2 separate regions of the Homo sapiens genome follow, and region 2 is linked to region 1. The links come from fine-mapping of genetic effects on gene expression. Tissue or cell type: whole blood. Region 1 holds a variant in brackets; the other region holds the start of a gene. All regions are shown on one strand. Distances are between the middles of the regions.

Evidence for each region. PIP is the estimated chance that this variant, and not a neighbour inherited with it, causes the effect.
Region 2: ZFAND4 starts here. The variant in region 1 is fine-mapped to the expression of ZFAND4 in whole blood (INTERVAL, PIP 0.98).

The regions. Positions count from the first base shown.
Region 1 is chr10:45,492,266-45,500,265 of GRCh38, reverse strand. The region is part of intron 2 of MARCHF8 (membrane associated ring-CH-type finger 8); the gene reads left to right. The region is part of intron 1 of LOC105378286 (a long non-coding RNA gene); the gene reads right to left. Among named protein-coding and RNA genes, the nearest start is that of MARCHF8, 39 kb to the left of the region's middle. The variant A/T (reference allele first, on the strand shown) is at 3,490.
Region 2 is chr10:45,668,570-45,676,569 of GRCh38, reverse strand. ZFAND4 (zinc finger AN1-type containing 4) reads left to right here and starts at 3,798. Exons shown (of 10, transcript NM_174890.4): 1 at 3,798-4,320. RefSeq lists a silencer at 3,496-4,215.

The DNA.
Region 1 (8,000 bases):
CACAAATCAGCTGTGTTTCTATATACTAATAATGAACAATCTAAAAAGGATATTGAGAAAACAGTCCTATTTACAATGGCATCAAAAATGCATAAAATAGGAATAAACTTAACCAAAGTGGTAAAGACTTATACACAGAAAACTACTATATATTGATGAAAGAAATTAAAGAAGACATAAAATAAATGGGAAGACATCCTGTGTTTATTGGAAAACTTAATATTGTTAAGATGACAGTACTGCCCAAATCAATCTGTATATTCGGTATAATCCTTCTCAAAATCTCAGTGACTTTTGTTTTACAGAAATAGATAAATCTGTCCTGTAATTTATATGGAATCACAAGGGATCCTGAATAGCCAGAACAATTTGAACAAAAAGAACAAAGTGATGGTGTGATGCTCCCTGACTTCAAAACTTATTACAAAGCTACAGTAAACAAGTTAGTGTGGTACTGGCATAAGATAGACATAGAAACCAATGGAATAGAATAGAGAGTCCCAGAAATAAAGCCTCACATATTTGGCCAAATGATTTCCCACAATGGCGCCGAGACTAGTCAGTGAGGAAAGGACAGTCTTTTCAACAAATGATATTGGTGGGGGTGGCAGGGGTCTGGATATTAAGAGGCAAAAGAATACAATTGGACCCTTACTTTACACCATGTAGAAAGATTAGCTCAAAATGGATCTAAGACTTAAAACTATAAAATTCTTAAAAGAAAACCTAGGGAAAGAAGCTTCTTGACTTTGGATTTGGCAAAAATTTTTTGGATATGACACCAAAAGCAAAGGCAACAGAAGTAAAAATACAGAAATTAGATTACATCAAAATTTAAAACTTCTGGGCATCAAAGGAAACAGTGGACAGGGTGGAAAGGCCACTTAGGGAATGGGAGATATTTACAAATCATATATCTGATAAAGGGATAATATCTAGAATATATAAAGAACTCCTACATCTCAACAGCAACAAATAATCTGATTCTAAAATGCTTGAATAGACACTTTTCCAAAGAGGATATACAAATGGCTAGTAGGCATATGAAAAGATGGTCAACATCATTGATAATTAGGGAAACGCAAATCAAAACCACAGTGAGATACCACTTTACAACCATCAAGGATGGCTGTTATATATATTTTAAAAATGTGTTGATGAGGATCCGAACAAAGTGGAACGCTGATTGTGCACTGCTAATAGGAATGTAAAATAGTGCAACCACAATGGAAAACAGTATAGGAGTTCCTTAAAAAGTAAAAGATAATTATTACTGTATGACCCAGGAAATCCACTTCTGGGTATATACCCCAAAGAATTAAAAGCCAGGTCTCAAAGAGATATTTGTATACCTGTGTTCATAGCAACATTATTTACAGTGCCAAAGGGTGGAAGCAATACAAGTGTCCATCAAAGGGTGAATGAATAAATAAAATATGGTACATTTATTGCATATAGTTTCACATTTGTTTTAAAAAGAAAAGGATTCTGGCTGGGCACAGCGGCTCACGCCTGTTATTCTAGCACTTTGGGAGGCCGAGGAGGGAGGATCACCTGAGGTCAGGAGTTTGAGACCAGCCTGGCCAACATGGTGAAATGCCATCTCTACTAAAAATACAAAAATTAGCTGGATGTAGTGGTGTATACCTGTAATCCCAGCTACTTGGGAGGCTGAGTCAGGAGAATTGCTTGAACCCAGGAGGTAGAGGTTGCAGTGAGCCGAGATCATGCCACTGCACTCCAGCCTGGGTGACAGAGCGAGACTTCTCAAAAAAAAAAAGGCTTCTGACACATGCTACAACACGGAGGAATCTTGAGGACATTATGCCAAGTGAAGTGAGCTAATCGCAAAAAGAAAAATACTGTTATGATTCCACTTGTATAAAGTATCTAGAGTAGTCAGAATCATAGAAACAGAAAGTAAAAATTTTTAAAAATATTTCGGGGGTAGGAAGATATAGGGAATTGTTTAATGAGTATAGAGTTTCAGTTTTTGCAAGATGAAAAAGTTCTGTAGATTGTGCAACAATGTGAATATACTTAATACTGAACTGTACACTTAAAATGGTTAAGATGGTGAATTTTATATTATGCATACTTTATATGATGGTGTGTTTACATTGTGTGTATTTTGCCACAATTAAAATGTTAAAAAGAAATGGTGAAAGCAGATAGAATTGCTGTTAAAATTTAGGGAGTAAGCATTCAATCTTTCACCATTAAGTATAATGTTACCTGTAGTTTTTTAGTAGATGTTTGTATTAGTCTGTTCAGGCTGCCATAACAAAATACCACAGACTGGGTGGCTTAAGTAACAGAAATTTAATTTCTCACATTTTTGGAGACAAGAAGTCCAAAATCACGTTGCCAGAAAATTTGGTTTCTGGTAGGCCTTTCTTTCTGACTTACATATGACTGCGTTTTCTCTGTACCTTTCTTTAATCTTGTCATTTACAGCTATAAATATCCCCCTAAGCACTATTTTAGTTGCATTGTGTAAGTGTGGTATTTTGTGACTTCATTTTTATGAATCTCAAATAAATTTTCTAGTTTTTTTTTGGTGAGTTCTTTTTTGATTTACTGGTTATTTCAGATTTTGTTGTTTAATTTCCGCATTTGTGAATTTGGTAGTTTCTCTCTGCTGTTGATAAACAATAACATTTAACTCTAAAGTTTAACTCTGTTGTAGCCAGAATCATACTGTATATGATTTGAGTCCTTTTACATTTACTGATGTTTGTTTTGTGGACTACTCTATAGTCTGTTGTTGTGCACTTGAGAAGAATGTATATTCTGTTGTTGTTGTTGGGTTTTGTATTCTGTGGATGTCTGTTAGGTCAAGTTGGTTTAGTGCTGTTCAAGTCTTTTACATAGCTCGGCTGTTCATTGTTGAAAGCAGGATTTTGAAGTCTGCAAGTATTATCTGTTTTTCAGTCAGCTCTGTCAGTTCTTGCTTTATGTATTTTGTGGTTTTCATATTAGGTGCTTATATATTTATAATTATTATACCTTCATGATGGTTGACCTTATCATAGTAAAAGTCCCTCTTTAGCTCTAGTAAAATTTTCCTAAGTCTTTTTTATCTGATATTAATATAATGACTACCCCTTTTTATGGTGGTTGTTTTTGTGCTATGTATCTTTTTGCTTCTTTTACTGTAATCCTGTTTATAATTTTGAGTCTAATTGTATCTCCTGAACTTAGAATACAACTGGATTTTGTGTTATTGTACATCCTGACAACCCTTCCTGTTGATTTGTTAATCCATTTGCAGTTCATGCTATTAATGATATGGTTTGCTTGTTTGCCATTTTACTTTTTGTTTTCTATGTGTCTTGCCATTTTTGTTCCTGTGTTCTTCCTTTATTGCTTTCTTTTGCATTATTTTGTATTGTAATATTTTAATTCCTTAAATGATTTTTAAAAAAGATTTCTAATGCTATTTAAAAAATTATTTTCTTAATGGTTGAGGGTTTACTATATATATAT[A/T]TATTTTTCTAACAGAATCTTCTTCAGATTCATATTGATTTAATTCCTGTAAGACATAGAATGATTCCTCCTATGTACCTCTATTTCTTTACTAATTATTGTTTATACATATCTATTTATGTTACAAACCCAACAATACATTGTAGCAGTTATTAGTTTATTTAACTGTCTTTTAAAGACATAAAGGAAAGGAGAGCATTATATGTTTATACAGTTTGTTATTTTAAAGTTAGCACTCCTTATTATCTTCATTTGTTTCAGTGTAGAGTTTCCATGTGATATCATTTCCTTATGCCAACCTTTCATAGTAGAAGTCCCTCTTTATCTCTGGTAAAATTTTCTGAATTCTGTTTCGTCTGATATTAGTATAATGATGACAACTTTGTACCCACTTATCTTGTATTACTATTAAATACATTACATTTCTTTATGTTATAGGTTTAACAATACAATTATAAACATAGTTTTTATATAATTCCTTTTTAAATTATTTAAGAAAGGAAAATATATATGCAAAATATATATGCATTTATATTGTCTTATAGTTACACAGTTACTTTTGACTACTGTTTGGCAGTACATGCTTTCAACTCAAAGAACTTCCTTTAGTATTTCTTTTCAGGTGCATCCACTTGCAATGAATTCTCTGAGTTTCTGTTTATCTATGAATGTATTTTTCATCTTCATTTTTGAAGATAGTTTTGCTGAATATAATTATCTTGGTTCACATTTTTTTTCTTTGAGTTCTTTATGTCCTTCCACTGTCTCTGGCCTCCCTGGTTTCTGAGGATAAGTCAGCTGTTAATCTTTTTGTGGTTCCCATGTACCATGGAGAATATGATGAGTCATTTATTTCCTGCTGCTTTTAGTTTTTCTTTTCCTTTCTCCTTTCTTTTCTTTTCTTTTCTCTCTTCTCTTCTTCTCTTTTCTTTTTTCTCTTTTCTCTTTTCTTCCTTTCCTTTCTCCCCTCCCCACCTTCCTGCCTGTCTCCCTCCCCTCCCCTAGCATCCCCTCCCCTCCCCTCCCCTCCCCTCCTAACAAATTAAGAGATAAGAAAGCTTGTGATAATGTTTGTGTAGATGGGAGTGTCTTTTCCTCTTCTTCATGGCCATAAAACTCCTCCTAGACAGGGGAATTATGGTACGTTTACTCTTGATCTCCTTCCTGGGAGTAAACCGTTGAAGAGGGAATTTATGGCAGCCTCATTTGTCACAGTTTCTGCTTTTAATCATATAAGGGAAGTATGGAGAGGGCTTCTTCCTGCATTCATTGAATATCAGATGTCTTCAGCTTAAAATCATGATTATGTCAACTCTGAGTTTTGAATGGGTCCTCACAAAAGCATCAGATCAGAAGAGATTTAATACATAAACAGATGCAGGAATCTAGCTGTCTTCTATTAAACAATGAGATTTATAAAAATGTACAGGAGTGCCACTCTGCTCACTAATTTTTTTTTTTTTGAGAAAATAGTTAAACTTCATTGAAATGTTATTTATGTTAACTGGGTTTATTACTAATGCTAAATGAATTAAGAGATATAGTTTTTACGCTGTCAGTTTTAATGTCTAATATTGCAAATACCCATAGATAAAACCCTACATAATCCAAAGGTTTTGGGAGTCCTTAATCTTTTTCTTTTCTTTTTTTTTTTTTGAGATGGAGTTTTGCTTTTGTTGCCCAGGCTGGAGTTCAGTCGCGCGATCTCGGCTCACTGCAACCTCTGCCTTTCAGGTTCAAGCAGTTCTCCTGCCTCAGCCTCCCAAGTAGCTGGCATTACAGGCATGTGCCACCACGCCCAGCTAATTTTTGTATTTCTAGTAGAGATGGGGTTTCACCATGTTGGCCAGGCTGGTCTCGAACTCCTGACCTCAGGTGATCCTCCCACCTCGGCCTCCCAAGTGCTGGGATTACAGGTGTGAGTCACCACGCTTGGCCCTTAATCATTTTTTACAGGATAAAGGGGTCCTGAGACCAAAAAGTTTCAGACTTCTAGTAACTATCTTCTTCATAGTCCCAAAGTGAACTGCTTTACTTCGTGGTATTACGTCTATATTCCAGGCTGGATGAGGGAGGAGGAATTCCAGAGAAATGGGCAATGGCAATATCAGGAAAGCAAAATGTTTTCCCAGGAAATCTTTAGTTAATTTCTTTCAAAAGAACTTTTTATATATTTAATAGTTTTCCTTAACTGCAAAGTAGTGTGGAAAAGTGAGAACTTTTAGCTGGGTTTGTTGCTGCTCAGGACAAAGTCAGGGTTCTTTTGGTGGGGACAAAGGGAGATAGGTATTGAGTATGTAGTTAGCGGTGTTCATTGCCCACATATTTTGTCTTTTTTTTTAAGGACCAGTCCTGGTCAGAGTTTCAGGAAAACCCCACATGATGAAGTCCTATTGTTTGACTCTTTCATACAGAATCCCAAAAACTCGCTTAGGCATCTCACCTCGTTGTCTTCTTGATAATTATTGGTTTCTACTTTCCAGGGTGTATTTGGTCTATGTGAGTTTTATGCCTTGGCTCTACCCACAAGTACATTCTGTTGGGAGCCACATGTGGACTTGTGAAAAACATCATTGACAGCACTGATTAAATTGTAAAATGTGCCTTATTCTTCAGCAGAGCTTCTCTTTATCTTTGTGATCTGGTAGCTTCTCACATTAAGAAAACTTTGTTTTCTCACACCCTCAGACTCAGTCTTTCCCAATCTGTACCATTGTGTTTCCTGATTGATTGATTTGTATTAACTCAATTGTGGGCTCACAGCCATCTTTTACATAGGAATTTACTTTTAAAATGGTCATGATTTGCTTTTTAAAACATGAGTCATAAATTGGGTGCAGTAGTATGCCTGTAATCTCAGCTACTTGGGAGGTTGAGGTGGGAGGATCACTTGAGCCCAGGAATTAGAGACTGTAGTATGACATGATGGTACTCGTGAATAGCTACTGTCCTCCAGCCTGGACAACATGGCAAAACCCTGTCTTAAAAACAAACAAACAAAACTCATAGACTTTATTGATTTTTCTGGTTCAAGATTTGGAATGAAAACTTGCACCTCAAACTGTGGTCTGGGGACAGCAGCATGGGAGTCACCTGGGAGCTTTTTGGAAATGCAGAAATCTGAGTCCCCCCTAGACCTAACAAACCACAATCTACATTTTAGCAAGATCCCTAAATGATTAGGTGTCCAGAGTTGGAAAAGCACTGGCTAAAGGAGAAAACAAATGAAATCTAGAGGGCATGAGGCTGTGTTCTGAGGAGCTCTCATGTTGAATGTAGATGAAAAGAGCCCACCAGAGAGATGTGGAGATGAAAGCCAGGGTAGTGTGTGGCATCTCTTAGTACCTTCTCTGAGGAAGGAAGGAAGATGCAGCGAGGCTTCCATCTCTCCTGGGGTCACAAGGTGGTGGTATCCAGTAAGCAGTGACTGAATGTGTTAAAGAGCTGTAAATAATTTGCCAGGGTTTTTATTACTTGGGCATTGAAGCTTAGTTTGGGCTTGAACTGGAACTTTTTTCTCCTTGGTATGTCTAATTCCACTTCTTTACATTGATGCTTGGCAAACTTTACTTCTCATTCAGAACCAAGATGCCATTCTGACTACAGGGCAGAGTGGTGTCACACTTCCACCTTGATATACTTTATGTATGTGCTTCTTTTATGTCATTCTTAAGCTCTTCCCTAGTTTGGACATTTCTCACCAAAACACTTTTTCAGAGGAGTTCAGTGGTAATACACGTTGAGCGTCCCTAATCCACAAACTCGAAATCCAGCATGCTTCAAAATCTGAAACTTTGGAATGTCAGCATGACACTCAAAGTAAGTGCTCATTGTCACCTTTCAGATTTTGAATTCTCAGATTTGGGATGCTCCACCTGTAAGTATAATGCAAATATTCCAAAGTCCAAAAAACTCAGAAATATGAAACAGTTCTGGTCCCAAGCATTTCAAATAAGGGATTCTCAATATTATCATTGGCATATGGTTAGGAGTGAGATTTTGGTCCATATTCTATGCCTGACACAGTTGTTCACACATAGTAGTTGCATAGTAAATAAGTGTGGAAAGAATGACTGATTTGAATGAGTTTTGGGACTTGCTTTCTGGAAAATATCTCTGATGTTGTCCTGCACTATATATTTTAAGTCCAAATAAATGGACATCTAAAGAGCAGTGTTTAGGCTGGGCGCAGTGGCTCACGCCTGTAATCCCAGCACTTTGGGAGGCCGAGGCGGGCAGATCACGAGGTCAGGAGATCGAGACCATCCTGGCTAACACAGTGAAACCCCGTCTCTACTAAAAATACAAAAACTGAGCCGGACATGGTGGTGGGCGCCTGTAGTCCCAGCTACTTGGGAGGCTGAGGCAGGAGAGTGGCATGAACCTGGGAGGCGGAGCGTGCAGTGAGCCGAGATTGCACCAGTGCACTCCAGCCTGGGCGACAGAGCGAGACTACGTATCAAAAAAGAAAAAAAAAAAGAAGAAGAAGAAGAAGAAGAAAAAGAGCAGTG
Region 2 (8,000 bases), 180 kb before region 1:
GACGGAGTTTAGCTCTTGTTGCCCAGACTGGTGGCATGATCTTGGCTCACCACAACCTCCGCCTCCCGGGCTCAAGAGATTCTTCTGCCTCAGCCTCCCTAGTAGCTGGGATTACAGGTATGTGCCACCATGCCCGGCTAATTTTGTATTTTTAGTAGAGATAGGGTTTCTCCATGTTGGTCAGGCTGGTCTCGAACTCCCGACCTCAGGTTATCCGTCCACCTCGGCCTCCTAAAGTGCTGGGATTACAGGCATGAGCCACCGTGCCCGGCCAAATCTGCTTATTTTTAAGCTTTTTGATGCTTTTCTGTTTTGTTTCAGTTTTTTTTCCTATTTATTAATACAAGTTCTTTAGGTATTTTGGATAATTGTTAAAAAGCTTTTTAATTTGTTCATTGGTTTCTTTGCTGTGAAGGTTTTCAATTTGGCATTGTCCCATGTTTAGTTTGGCTTTTCATGTCTCCACTTTTGTGACATATTCTGTAAATTATTGTCAAGATCAATACCTAGAAACTTCTAGACAAAAACCTAAAAGAAAAGTTTTCTCATTTCAGGTCTTACACTTAAATGTTGTTTTTTGATTTTTTTTTTTTTGGAGACAGAGTCTCGCTCTGTTGCCCAGGCTGGAGTGCAGTGGTGCGATCTCGACTCACTGCAGCCTTCGCCTCCCGGGTTCAAGTGATTCTCCTGCCTTAGCCTCCTGAGTAGCTGGGACTATAGGCACGCGCTACCACGCCCAGCTAATTTTTGTGCTTTTAGTAGAGACAGGGTTTTGCCATGTTGGCCAGGATGTTCTCGACCTCCTGACCTTGTGATCCACCCGCCTCCGCTTCCCAAAGTGCTGGGATTACAGTCATGAGCCACCACGCTTGGCCACATTTAAATCTTTAATAAATTTTTATTGGATTTTCGTTTGGCAAACTATGCTACCCCCCCCCCCCCACTGTCTGATCTTGTTAATAAAGTTTTATTGGAACACAACCACATTCATTGATTTACTTACTTTCTATTGTTGCTTTCACCCTACCTCCAATGTAAGAGTTGAGTAATTATGACGAGACCGGATGGCTCACAGAGCCTCAGATGTTTTCTATCTGCCCCTTTTATTTATTTTTTTGAGACGGAGTCTTGCTCTGTCACCCAGGCTGGAGTGCAGTCATGTGATCTTGGCTCACTGCAACCTCTATTTCCTGGGTTGAAGCGATGCTCCTGCCTCAGCCTCCCGAGTAGCTGGGATTACAGGCGCCTGCCATCACACCCAGCTAATTTTTGTATTTTTAGTAGAGTTGGGGTTTCACCATGTTGGCCAGGTTGGTCTTGAACTCCTGACCTCGTGATCCACCTGCCTCGGCCTCCCAAAGTGCGGGGATAACAGGCGTGAGCCACTGCGCCTGGCCCTGCCCCTTTACATAAACAGTTCGCTGACCATTGCTCTAAGGCATTCTGTTCCATTCTTGCCTTGTGGAAGCAGCAGAATGAACCTAGGTAATAGCCGGGGGAAGTGCTGAGGATAGAAATGTCAGCCTCTAGAGCAGCACTGCCCCATAGAACTCTGCAGGAATGAAAATTTTCTTTATCTGCATCGTCAAAGGCAGTAGCCACTAGCCACCTGGATGGCTGACCCCATTCTAGTCTGTGTTTTTTGGTGCTCTGTCGTCTTGCTGCTGACTATTCAGCCTGTCACCATGGTGCAGTCTTGTAGGCCGCCCAGGTTGGTCTCAGCGATCCTGGAGCTACTGACTTCTTCCTTGGGCACTGTAAGATCAGACAGGGAATTACTCATACCCAGAGTCAAAGATTTTGTTCAGCTCCCACAGGTCAACCATTTGCCCAAGTCTGCTGTGAGAGTGACGTGATGACAGATGAGGGCACTTGCTAGTTGGCCACTCCTTTCCCCTATTCATTTTATGCATCTTCCTTCTGTCCGTAGGTTATTTGTGCACATAGTTTCTTGCTGTAGTACCCAATGTCGGTCAGAGTCAGCATTTGTTAAATACGATGATTTTCTTTTGGAACAACTAAATCTACTCATCAATCAGTAGGATTGGTTTCAGGGGATTCAGGAGACAACAGGTTTAGAAAATACGCAAGCTGCTATTTTGAGAGGCTTGAAAGGGAGAGAGAACTTACGTTAAAAAAAAGTTCCTATGGTAACAACTTTTAATGCTATTTTATTCAGTCTCCATGGTCTATCAGATAGGTAATGTAGTAACACTAATTTTACAGATAAAGCTAAAATCTGGAAGCAATGTGGAATAATGGAACAAGGTTGGATTTTTGTATTGTGTCCTAGTTTAAATATGGCTTTCCGACATAGAGCTGTTTGATTATAGGTAAATTGTTCTACTTTAATTGGCTTTTGTTTACTCCTTTGTAGACGAGGGATTTCACTACCAACTTTGCAGGATTGTGATGGGGAGAGAATACGTAAAGACCCTTATCAACTATCTGGCACTTGAAGAATGGCAGATGATAATGATGATGATGTTGTAAAGAATGAATGACTTGGCCAGGTAATGGAGCTTCTGGTATTGGGAGGCAAGGCTTTAAACACACCTGCCTGACTCCACGGTCCATGCTGTCAATTCTCCAGTGTGAATGAAGTGGGCAGGCAAGGGTGAGAAACGCTAAGGTTTTTACTCAGTAAGTCTCCATCACAGGCCCTATTCTAGGCTCAGGAATGCAAAGATGATTACCATCATAGCTCTGTCCTCAAAGGTCTCCAATCTATTTAGCATTAAGCATATGTGGAGTTTCAGAAGGAACCAACGGCGAGACTGGTGAATCAATGCCCAGTGCCTCACCATACTCCCCCAGTGTATGCTCAATAGTTCGTTGAACTGTGGAGATAAGTTGGTGGGTAGGGTCTCAGAAGAATGAGAGAGGACAGGAGACACAGATTAGATGTTTAGTTTCATATTAGACTGGCTCCTCTGAGCCAGAAGTCGAGGATGAGTGAACCCGCAGTGGGAGTGAGATGACATTCTTTGTCAGCTGAGTAACCCACTTAGTGAAGGAGGTTCACGGAGTTGGAAAATCGGTAGGGGGAACGGAACGAGGCAGTGGGCTCCCATGTTAGGTTGAAAGGCAGGTGTTGGCTTGAAGCCAGTTACTGTTTACACCGCAGCTCAGCAGCTTGGAAACTGGAGCAGGAGGTGTGGCTGGGCTTACCCAACGCTGGGATTTGAGCCCAGGGTGCCTACTCCATTGCCTGGCCTACAGTTCTCAGTAAATTGTATGAGGACTACAGAAAGTTATCTGTTTTCGCCTTTGTCTTCAAGCAGGCACGGTAATGCCCCCATTTTCCAGATGAGGCAATTGAGGCCAGAAACATTAGGGGACGGTGAAGCCTAAAGCAGATTTGTTAGGACAGGCCGGCCCAAACGCACCAGGAGCGCCCCTCACTCTGGAGAGGCCACCGACTGGACAGCGTCTGCCTGTATCGCCTATCTCCAGCAAATCAGGCGCCTGGAAGAGGATCCCCGGTGGGTCTCACGGAGGGCGGCTCCGGCTTCAACCCCGCCGTTCCCAGCAGGCCATGCGGCTGCCCTCCAGACGCCCGCGTGGGCACGAGTCAGGGGTCCAGTGTTGCTAGTAATAAAAGATCAACATCCGGGCCTCGTAACTCACAACCTCCAGCGAATGCCAAGAAGGCCCCAGGGCCCTGGCGCCCCGGCAACCGCCCACGTCCGGGGGCCAGGCCTGCCCCCGCCCGCGCTGATTGGAGGGCAGCGAAAGCGCCGTCCAGCGATTGGTAGGTGGTGTCACAAAGGGGCGGGGCGCGGCGGCAGCGGAGCGTTGTCGGCCAGTGCCTTCCGTGAAGTTGCTCGCCGGGTCGTTGGGCCCTGTCGACCTGTAGGCGGGCGAGCGAGCCAGCGGACAAGACTGCGGGTGAGGCTGAGCTAGCGAGCGGCCGGCAGGGGGGGCGCCCGGGCTGCGAGCCGCTGAGCCCAGCCGCGCTGCCGCCGCCGGCCGTCGTGGGGCCGGAATGGCGCAAGGCCGGAGTGGCGCGGGCGCTCGGCGCTGGGCTGCCGGGTAGAGTCCTGTCCCCGCCCCTCGCCTTGCGGCCTGACGCCGGCCGCTGCTGCCCGGGGACCGGAGCGGCGGGCCGCCTTTGCCCAGGACACACGCTCTGGCGTTTGTTCCTTTGGGCGTGACGCCAGCTTCAACGGGTACGCGGCTTTCCCGACGGGTGCTGATCTCCGAGTCGCTGTTGTCACGCGGACTGCTGTCCTCCAGATTCAGGCCGGTGGGTCTGGGGAGCCCGGATTGGTCTTGGAGGAGCAACGGCTGCGCAGGTGACTCGGTGGCCTCAAGTGTGTAGGTACCTGGATGGCGCGAGGAGATGCTGGCTCTGAAATACTTCCCAATTCCGCTTGCAGATGAACTCCGGACTAGAGTTTAGGCTACAGACAAGTTAGGCGGTTGATGTGATTCTGTAGCTCGTATTTCGAACTTTAGGGATGTTTTGATGTATCAGTAAATGTAGATCTGTGTCACAGTTTTAATGGCAGCTTCACATTCCGGATATCTTTATGTTGGGGAAAATGTTTCAAAGGTAACTGCTCTTCTGTAGCTAAGCTTCTTTAGAGCAGAGGTTGGAGAAAATTCTGAGTTACTGAAATTACGTATTCAGCGCTATTGCCTGTTTACCTTTAACTTCCATTTCATCCTTGGAGTTGTGTTTTTAGAAACTTTTCAGAAGAAATGAGAGAAATGCTTTGGGAATTGATTTTTTTTTTTTTTTTAAGTTCTAGGGTACATGTGCACAACGTGCAGGTTTGGTACATAGCTATACATGTGCCATGTTGGTTTTCTGCACCGACTAACTCGTCATTTATATTGCGTATTTCTCTTAATGCTATCCCTCCCCCCATCTCACTCCCCACGACAGGCCCCAGTGTGTGATGTTCCCCTCCCTGTGTCCAAGTGTTCTCATTGTTGAGTTCCCATCTATGAGTGAGAACATGGCGGTGTTTGGTTTTCTGTCCTTGTGACAGTTTGCTGAGAATGATGGTTTCCAGCTTCATCCATGTCCATGCAAAGGACATGAACTCATCCTTTTTTTATGGCTGCATAGTATTCCATGGTGTATATGTGCCACATATTCTTAATCCACTCTATCACTGATGGACATTTGGGTTGGTTCCAAGTCTTTGCTGTTGTGAATTGTGCCACAGTAAACATACGTGTGCATGTGTCTTTATAGTGGCATGATTTATAATCCTTTGGGTATATACCCAGTAATGGGATCGCTGGGTCAAATGGTATTTCTAGTTCTAGATCCTTGAGGAATTGCCACACTGTTTTCCACAACGGTTGAACTAATTTACAGTCCCACCAACAGTGTAAAAGTGTTCCTATTTCTACACATCCTCTCCAGCATCTGTTGTTTCCTAACTTTCTAATGATCGCCATTCTAACTGGTGTGAGATGGTATCTCACTGTGGTTTTGATTTGCATTTTTCTGATGACCAGTGATGATGAGTGTTTTTTCATGTGTCTGTTGGCTGCATAAATATCTTCTTTTGAGAACTGTCTGTTCATATCCTTTGCCCACTTTTTGATGCGGTTGTTTTTTTCTTGAAAATTTGTCTAAGTTCTTTGTAGATTCTGGATATTAGCCCTCTGTCAGATGGGTAGATTGCAAAATTTTTTTCCCATTCTGTAGGTTGCCTGTTCACTCTGATGGTAGTTTCTTTTGCTGTGCAGAAGCTCTTTAGTTTAATTAGATCCCATTTGTCTATTTTGGCTTTTGTTGCCATTGCTTTTGGTGTTTTAGTCATGAAGTCCGTGCTCATGCCTATGTCCTGAATGGTATTGCCTAGGTTTTCTTCTAGGGTTTTTATGGTTTCAGGTCTAACATTTAAGTCTTTAATCCATCTTGAATTAATTTTTGTATAAGGTGTAAGGAAGGGATCCAGTTTCAGCTTTCTACATATGGCTAGCCAGTTTTCCCAGCACCATTTATTAAATAGGGAATCATTTCCCTACGTCTTGTTTTTGTCAGGTTTGTCAAAGATGGTTGTAGGCTGGGCACAGTGGCTTACGCCTGTAATCCCAGCACTTTGGGAGGCCGAGGCAGGCGGATCACCTGAGGTTGAGAGTTTGAGACCAGCCTGACGAACATGGAGAAACCCCTGTTGGGAGAAATCTCTACTAAAAATGCAAAAAAATTAGCCGGGCGTGGTGGCACATGCCTGTAATCCCAGCTACTAGGGAGGCTGAGGCAGGAGAATCACTTGAATCTGGGAGGCGGAGGTTGTGGTGAGCCAAGATCACACCATTGCACTCCAGCCTGGGCAACAAAAGTGAAACTCCGTCTCAAAAAAAAAAAAAAAAAATCAGATAGTTGTGATTTTTGCACATTGATTTTGTACCCTGAGACTTTGCTTAAGTTGTTTATCAGCTTAAGGAGATTTTGGGTTGGGACGATGGGGTTTTCTAAATGTATAATCATGTCATCTGCAAACAGGGACAATTTGACTTCCTCTTTTCCTAATTGAATATCCTTTATTTCTGTCTCCTGTCTGATTGCTCTGGCCAGAACTTCCAACACTGTGTTAAATAGGAGTGGTGAGAGAGGGCATCCCTGTCTTGTGCCGGTTTTCAAAGGGAATGCTTCCAGTTTTTGCCCATTCACTATGATATTGGCTGTGAGTTTGTCATAAATAGCTCTTATTATTTTGAGATACGTTCCATCAATACCTAGTTTATTAAGAGTTTTTAGCATGAAGAGCTGTTGGATTTTGTCAAAGGCCTTTTCTGCATCTATTAAGATAATCATGTGGTTTTTGTCATTGGCTCTGTTTATGTGATGGATTATATTTATTGATTTGCCTGTATTGAACCAGCCTTGCATCCCAGGGATGAGGCCGACTTGATCATAGTGGATAAGCTTTTTGATGTGCTGCTGGATTCGGTGTGCCAGTATTTTATTGAGGATTTTCGCATAGATGTTCATCAGGGATACTGGTCTAAAATTCTCTTTTTTTGTTGTGTGTCTGCCAGGCTTTGGTATCAGGATGATGCTGGCCTCATAAAATGAGTTAGGGAGGATTCCCTCTTTTTCTATTGATTGGAATAGTTTCAGAAGGAATGGTACCAGCTCCTCTTTGTACCCCTGGTAGAATTTGGCTGTGAATCCATCTGGACCTGGACTTTTTTTGTTGGTAGGCTATTAATTATTGCCTCAATTTCAGAGCCTGTTATTGGTTTCTTCAGAGATTCCACTTCTTCCTGGTTTAGTCCTGGGAAGGTATATGTGTCCAGGAATTTATCAATTTCTTCTAGATTTTCCAGTTTATTTGTGTAGAGGTGTTTATGGTATTCTCTGATGGTAGTTTGTATTTCTGTGGGATCGCTGGTGATATCCCCTTTATCTTTTTTTATTGCATCTATTTGATTCTTTAGTCTTACTAACAATCTATCAATTTTGTTGATCTTTTCAAAAAACCAGCTCTCAGATTCATTGATTTTTTGAAGGGATTTTTGTGTCTCTATTTCCTTCAGTTCTGCTCTGATCTTAGTTATTTCTTGCCTCCTGCTAGCTTTTGAATTTGTTTGCTCTTGCTTCTCTAGTTCTTTTAATTGTGATTTTAGGGTGTCAATTTTAGATCTTTCCTGCTTTCTCTTGTGGGCATTTAGTGCTATAAATTTCCCTGTACACACTGCTTTAAATGTGTCCCAGAGATTCTGGTGCGTTGTGTCTTTGTTCTCATTGGTTTCAAAGAACATCTTTATTTCTGCCTTCATTTCGTTATTTACCCAGTAGTCATTCAGGAGCAGGTTGTTCAGTTTCCATGTAGTTGTGCAGTTTTGAGTGAGTTTCTTAATCCTGAGTTATAATTTGATTGCACTGTGGTCTGAGAGACAGTTTGTTGTGATTTCTGTTGTTTTACATTTGCTAAGGAGTGCTTTACTTCCAGCTATGTGGTCAACTTTGGAATAAGTGCGATGTGGTGCTGAGAAGAATTTGCCAGACATTAAAATGTCTTTTA